Homo sapiens: one gene and its partner. The protein of the gene in region 2 purifies or fractionates together with the protein of the main gene of each other region. This does not show direct contact. Each region holds a gene or a part of one and is shown on either strand. Other genes may lie near its edges.

Region 1 (3,926 bases), about 85 Mb from region 2:
TAAGAAAAGTAAGAATAGAGGCTGGGCATAGTGGCTCACGCCTATAATCCCAACACTTTGGAAGTCTGAGGTGGGAAGATGACTTGAGGCCGGGAGTTTGAGACAAGCCTGAGCAACACAGTGAGACGCCATTGCTAGCAAAAAACTAAAAATTAGCTAGGTGTGGTGGCACGTTCCCGTACTCCTAGCTACTCAGGAGGTTGAGGCAGGAGGATTGCTTGAGCCCAGATGTTTGAGGTTACAGTGAGCTATGATCATACCACTGTACTCCAGCCTGGGCAACAAAGAGAGATCCTGTCTCAAAAATAAGTAAATAAAAACAGAGTAGAAAAATTCAATCAAAACCAAAAGAAGGTAGTACTAGAACTCAGAGAAAAAAAGATAAACACTTGCATAAAAAAAAAAACCCGCAAAATGACAGAAATAAGCCCTTTTGTTGTATATAATTTGGCTGGTTTTTGTCCCTGGTTTCTGGAAGACAGCCTCTAAGTCTAAACCTTTGGAATTTCCCCCAGTGATAGGCGTGCCTTTGTTATTCATAGTGGATACCTTAGACCACACCTGGTAAGGTGACTCATGGTGGGCCTCTAGACAGTTTCAGGATGGGGGCTGGCCATGCCAGAAAGAATGATCATATCTTCAGGAGGTTGAGGCTTTGAGCCACATTATCAGTCTGACCTCCTGACCTAGGGAGGGGCACAAGGCTGGAGATTGAATTCAATCATGTGGCCAATGATTCACTCAATCACACCTATGTTAACAAAGCCCCAATGAAAATTCTGCACACCCAATGCTCAAGTGAACTTCCTGGTTGGTGACAGACATTGATGTGTTAGGAGGGTGATATATCCTAAGGACACATAAGGTTTGTGTTTGAGATCCTCTCAGATCTCCCCCTTTATGTTTATTTTCTTTTCGCTGCAGTGAGCCATGAAGGTCCTAATTTGTATCCTTTATAATAAAAACGTAATCCTAAGTATAGTGCTTCCCTGAGTTCTATGATTTGTTCCTGCAAATTACTGAGCTGAGATGCTAGTAGAAATCCTGGAATCTGTAGACAGTTGGTCAGGAGTGCATGTAGCCTTGGAAACTCTAAATTTGCTGCTTGCTTATGAAGTGATGGCAGTTTTGTGGGGGGACTGTGCTACAAACCTATTAAATTTAACCTACCTCTCAGTAGTTACCACCAGGATTATTACATCCTGTCTGTAATTACTTTAAATGTTTCTCTCTCTTTCTTTCTTTCTTAGAGGCGGAGTCTTGCTGTGTCACCCAGGCTGGAGTGCAGTGGTGGAATCATGACTCACTGTAGCCTCAAACTCCTGGGCTCATGCAATTCTCCTGCCTCTGCCTCCCAAGTAGCTGGGACTACAGGTGCATGCAACCTCATCTGGATAACTGTCTTAAACTATTAAATAAACAGCAAACACTGGTCAGATGTGGAGGCACACACCAGTAATCACAGCACTCTGGGAGCCCAAGGCAGGCAGATCACTTGAGGCCAGGAGTTTGAAACCAGTGTGGCCATCATGGTAAAACCCTGTCTCTACTAAAAATACAGAAATTAGCCAGGTGCAGTGGCACATGCAGATCACTTGAGGCCAGGAGTTTGACACCAGTATGGCCATCATGGTGAAACCCTGTCTCTACTAAAGATACAAAAACTAGCCAGGTGCAGTAGCACATGCCTGTAATCCCAGCTACTCGGGAGGCTGAGGCACAAGAATTGCTTGAACCTGGGAGTGGGAGGCTGCAATGAGAGTGAGACTCTGTCTCAATAAAAATGAATTAAAAAAAAAAAAGACTGACAGAATGGATCTTATAAAACAGAATACAATAATATATAATCTAAAAGAGACTCATTTGAACCCAAAGACAAAACCAAAACAAAGTAGGGGTAGCTGTTATAAAATCAGACAAAACAGATTTTAAATTAAATATTGTTATAGGAGACAAAGAAGGACATTATAAAGGAGTTAAGGTAAAGGTAAAGGAGTCAATCCGTCTAGAAGATATAAAAATTGTAAACATACATGAACCTAGCAAAACAGCCCACAATATAGGAAACAAAAATTTACATAACTGAAGGGAGAAATACAGACAGTTCTACAGACATAGTTAGATATATTACCATACTTCCAATAATGGACCTATTAGAACACGATCAAAGAAGAATGAAAAAAAATATTAACTGTTGGTGAGGATCTGGAGATACTGAAACCCACTTTATACATTACTGTTAGAAGTATAAAATAATGTAAATGCTGAGAAGAACAGTTTGACAGTTCCTCAAAATCTTAGATATAGCTACCATATGACCTAGCAATTATATTCCTAGGAATATACCCCCAAATTGAAAACAGATGTTCAAGCAAAAACCTGCACGTAAATGTTCATAGCAGTCTACTCACAACAGTCAAAAGGTAAAAAGAACTCATATGCTCTGACAAATAGGTCAATCAAATATAGTATAGGTTGAGTATTCCTTATCTGAAATCCTTGGGACCAGAAGTATCTCAGATTTTGGAATGTTTATATTATATTATACTTACTGGTTAAGCATCCCTAATCTGGAAATCTGAAATCCCAAATCCAAAATGCTCCAATGAGAATTTCCTTTGAGCATCATGTTGGGTGCACAAAAAGTTTTGAATTTTAGAATATTCCCACAAGTGGAATACTATTCAGACATTAAAAGTGAGTGAAGTACTCATACATACTACAACATGAATGAACCTTGACAACAATATGCTAAGTAAAAGAAGCCAGGCAAAAAAGGTCACAAATTATATAATTTCTATCATATGACAAATCTAGAATAGACAAATCTGTAGAGACAGACAATTAGTAGTTGCTAGCAGCTGGGAGGAAGGGGGAATGGGGAGTGACTGCTTAACAGGTATGCGTTTCCTTTTGGGGTGATGAAAATGCTTTGAAACTAGGTAGTGGTGATGGTCACACAATATTGTGAATATAGCAAATGCTTCCAAATTGAATAAAATTAAAATGGTTAATACAACAAATTTTATTCTATGTGTATCTTATCATAATTTTAAAAATCTATGCACAGGTTTTTCTTTCAATTATTAAATCAGAACCAGTTATAGACAAAAATACACACAAAAAACAATGGCTATACACTACATACCTGTTAGTGCTGCTGGTTTGGATAGTGTACTATATTGATTTTGCGTAGATATCATACTTTGACGTGGACTTAGTGTTGGTGATGCAGCAACAAGTGAAAGTTCTTCAATAATAATCCTGCTTTTGGGATGATTCTTGGGGACTTCGTTTAATCTTTGCTCTAATGAATACTTTAAAAGGTCCAACTTCTGACTTGATTCATTAAATCTTGCTTGAGCCTTGCACAGGGAAAAGACAATTGTTGTCATTTAAATAATCACATACTTTGAATAATGTATTTATTAAACCAAATAAAAATTTTTATTTAAAATTACTTCTGAAAGTGCTTTTCTGTCTGTTACTTTTCCTGAGCCAAGTAATTTCATTACATTCTTTGCACCTTCTGCTACTGCAAACTCTATCCTAAAATGATGCCTTAATTCTTCCATCCGAAGTTCAAGAGGACTTATCACAGGTTTTGCTAGAAAGGAAAAAAAAATTTTAATTGCACCATTTATCTGACTTTCCAATTTGCAGTGATTAAAATCATGAAAAGAAATGAATTCCTATAACATTACAATAACTTAGTCCTTACATCAATAAACACTGAAATAAAAATATTTGATATGATATTGAAATTCAGAGCCTTTCATTTTTGTCATTACACATCTAAATTACAAATCTGAAAAAAAGATTTTAGAGCTGAAAGATATCCAAATATTGTAACATGGGGAGACCGAAAGTTTCTACTCCTACTCTTAGCAACTAGCTTTAAAGATTTCTTCTGGAATTAAAAAATA
Region 2 (3,926 bases):
ACTTTGTTGCCCAGGCTGGAGTGCAGTGGCACAAACCTTGCTCACTGTAGCCTCGACCTCCGTGTTTCAAGTGATCCCGTTGCCTCAGCCTCCCAAGTATCTGGGACCACAGGCATGCATTACCACGTCTGGCTAATTGTTTTGTATTTTTTGTAGAGATAGGGTTTCGCCATGTTTCCCAGGATAGTCTCACACTCCTGGGCTCAAGCTGTCCTCCTGCCTTGGTCTCCTAAAGTGCTGGGATTACAGGTATGAGCCACTGTGCCTGGCCTAAACCGTTTATTTAGAAATAATGACAGATTCCCAGGAAGTTGCACAGATAGGAAGGTCCAATGTACCTCTACCCTTTCCCTCAAAGGCAACATCAGATACAACCGTGGTACAATATAAAACAGGAACACCGACACTAGTGCAATGTGCATGTTGTTCTGTCATTTCTCCCCATGTAGATTCCTGTGACCAGCATCAGGGTCAAGGTACAGCCCTCTCCCATCCATCACTCAAGGTTCTCCCCTTTATAATCCTGCCTACCCCTGCCCACCAGCAATCCCTAGCCCGTAGCAACTGCTGATATGTTCTCCATGTCTATAATTTTGTCATTTAAAGAATATTAGGGGCCAGGTGCGGTGGCTTACACCTGTAATCCCAGCACTTTGGGAGGCCGAGGTGGGTGGATCACCTGAGATCAGGAGTTCAAGACCAGCCTGGGCAACATGGTGAAACCCCGTCTCTACTAAAAATACAAAAATTAGCTGGGCATGGTGGCGGGCGCTTGTAATCTCGCTACTCAGGAGGCTGAGGCAGGAGAATCGCTTGAGCCCAGCAGGTGGAGGTTGCAGTGAGCTGAGATTGTGCCATTGCACTCTAGCCTGGGTGACAGGCTGAGACTCCATCTCAAAAAAAAAAAAAAAAAGAATATTAGGTAAGTGGAATCATAAAGTATGTGACCTTTTGAGATGAGCCTTTTTCACTCCACATAAGGCTCCCGAGATGCATGTAAGTTGTGTGTATCCATAGTCCGTTCCTTTTCATTGCTGAGTAGCATTCCATGGTTTGGTTTTACCACAGTTTGTTCAACCATTCGCCTGTGGAAAGATATTTTGTTTGTTTCCAGTTTTTGACTATTACAAATGAAGCTGCTCTGGCCAATTATGTACAAGTTTTTCTTTTTTCTTTCTTGTTTTCTTTTGAGACAGGGTCTCACCCTGTCGCCCAGGCTGGAGTGCAGTGGTGCAATCATAGCTCACTCTAGCTTTCACTTCCTGGGCTCAAGCGATCCTCCTACCTCCGCCCCTGAGTAGCTGGGACTACAGGGGTGCACCACCATGCCTGGCTAATTTTTGTATTTTCTGTAGAAACAGGGCTTCATCATGTTGCCCAGGGTGGCCTATAACTCCTAGGCTCAAGCAATCTACCCGCCTTGGCCTCCCAAAGTGTTGGGATTACAGGCGTGAGCCACCGCACCTGGCCATCTTGACAGGTTTTTGCGAGATGTAGGTTTTCATGCCTCTGGGGAGAATGCCCAGGAGTACAGTGCTGCGTTGTGTGGTGTGTGTTTAGTTTCTGAAGACAAGGATGTCCACTCTTGCTGCTTCTGTTTAACATGGTACTGCAGGGTCTAGCCAGGACATTTAGGCAAGAAAAATAAAAAGCATCCAGATTGGAAAGGAAGAAGTGAAGCTATTTCTATTTGCAGATCATATGAACTTGTATGTAGAAAACCCTAAGGAATCCACTAAAAAGTGATTAGAACTAATCATCAAGTTTAGCAAGGTTGAAGGATATAAGATCATATGCAAATATAGAAATACACTTCCAACGAACAATCTGAAAATGAAGCAGAAAATCATCCCATTTACACTGGCATCAAAAAGAATAAAATACTTAGGATAAGTGTAACAAAAAATTGTAATACTTATATTCTGAAAACTGCAAAATGTTGTTGAAAGAAATTAAAGTTTTGAATAAATGGATTAACATCCCATGTTCATGGATTGGAAAACTTAACATTGTTAAGATGGTGGGACTCCCCAAACTGACCTACAAATTCAACACAATCCCTATGAAAATTCCAGCTGGTTTCATTGTAGAAATTGACATGCTGATTCTAATCCACAGTTCATATGGAATTGCAAGAGACCCAGAATAGCCAAAACGACTGTGAAAAAGAAGATAGTAGGAGGACCCACATATTCTGATTTCAAAACTTAGTACAAAGCCACAGTAATCAAGACTGACACTGGTACAAGGACAGATATATAGATCAATGGAATAGAACAGAGCACCCAGAAATCTATGTATCTGTGGTCAGGATGCCAGGACCATTCAACGGAGGGGGAAGAGTAGTATCTTCAACAGATAGTGCTGGGACAACTGTATATTCACATACAAAAGAATGAAGTTGGACTCTTAGCTGGTACCTTATACAAAAAGTACAATAAATGAAAGACCTAAATGTAAAAGTTAAAAATATAAAGCCCTTAGAAGAAAACATAGCGATAAGTCCTCATCGCCTTGGATTTGGCAAAAGATTCTTAGATTTGACACCAAAAACATGAGCAGCAGAAGAAAAAACAGATAAATTGGGCTTCATCAACATTAAGAACTCTGGCCCGGGCACGGTGGCTCAAGCCTGTAATCCCAGCACTTTGGGAGGCCGAGACGGGCAGATCACTTGAGGTCAGGAGTTGAGACAAGCCTGGCCAACATGGTGAAACCCCGTCTCTACTAAAAATACAAAAATTAGCCGGGCGTGGTGGCAGGCGCCTGTAATTCCAGCTACTCAGGAGGCTGAGGCAGGAGAATTGCTTGAACCGGGGAGGTGGAGGCTGCAGTGAACGACAGCCCACAGAATAGGACAAAATAGTTGCCAATCATGTATCTAATACGGGACTTGCATCAGAATATATAAAGAATCCTTATAACTTAATAGTAAAAAGATAACCCAATTAAACATGGGCAAAGGTTCTGAAAAGAAAGAAATGTCTCCAAGGAAGATATTCAAGTGGTCGTAAGCACAGGAAAAGGTGCTTGAGATCATCAGTCGTCAGGGAACTGCAAATCAAAACCACAGTGAGATGCTACTTCACACCCACTAGGATAACAACCAGTGTGGGCGAGGATGCAGAGCGGCTGGAACCCTCAGGCCCCATTGATGGGAAGGGAAAACGGTGCAGCTGCTGTGGAAAATAGTCTGGCAGTTTCTCAACAATTACACAGAATCGCCATGTGACCCAGCAGCTCCACTCCTAGGTATGTACCCAAGAGAAATGAAAACACGTCCACACCAAAACTCGTCCGTGAGCGTTTACAGTAGCTTTATTCATAATAGCCAAAAGGTAGAAACCACCTAAGTCTCCAATGATGAACACTTGGATCAATAGAGTGTGGCACATCCATACAATGGAAGTACTCACCATGAAGAGGAATGAAACACAGCATGGCCGAGCCTTGAAACCATGCCAAGTCAAGAAGCCTGCACATACAGTAGGGTTCCATTCATAGGAAATACCCAGAACGGGGATGTTAGAGAGATGGAAAATAGATTAGTGGTTGTTTAGGGTTGGGGGTAGGGTAGAGGGGAGGGAGGTTGGTAGCTAAAGAGTATGAGGTTTCTTTTTGAGGTGGTGAAAATGTTCTGAAATTGACTGTGGATGTGGCTGCACAACTCTGGGAATATAATAAAACCCATTGTATTGTACACTTTATTTATTTTATTTATTTTTTTTGAGATGAAGTCTTGCTCTCTCCCCAGGCTGGAGTACAGTGGCGCGATCTCGGCTCACTGCAACCTCTGCCTCCTGGGTTCAAGCGATTCTCTTGCCTCAGCCTCCCGAGTAGCTGGGGTTACAGGCATGCACCACTGCGCCCAGCTAATTTTTGTATTTTTAGTAGAGACAGGGTTTCACCATGTTGGCCAGGATGGT

The links.
Region 1: the proteins of DFFB (region 2) and PKN2 purify together in Homo sapiens (affinity purification with mass spectrometry; 2 studies listed by BioGRID and IntAct, with this or other methods). This does not show direct contact.

What each region holds. Positions count from the first base shown.
Region 1 is NC_000001.11:88,771,102-88,775,027, reverse strand, and holds part of PKN2 (serine/threonine-protein kinase N2), read right to left. Parts: intron 3,608-3,926; coding exon 3,462-3,607; intron 3,366-3,461; coding exon 3,149-3,365; intron 1-3,148. UniProt on the Homo sapiens protein: PKC-related serine/threonine-protein kinase and Rho/Rac effector protein that participates in specific signal transduction responses in the cell.
Region 2 is NC_000001.11:3,860,258-3,864,183, forward strand, and holds part of DFFB (DNA fragmentation factor subunit beta), read left to right. Parts: intron 1-162; exon of another isoform or gene 163-249; intron 250-3,926. UniProt on the Homo sapiens protein: Nuclease that induces DNA fragmentation and chromatin condensation during apoptosis. Degrades naked DNA and induces apoptotic morphology.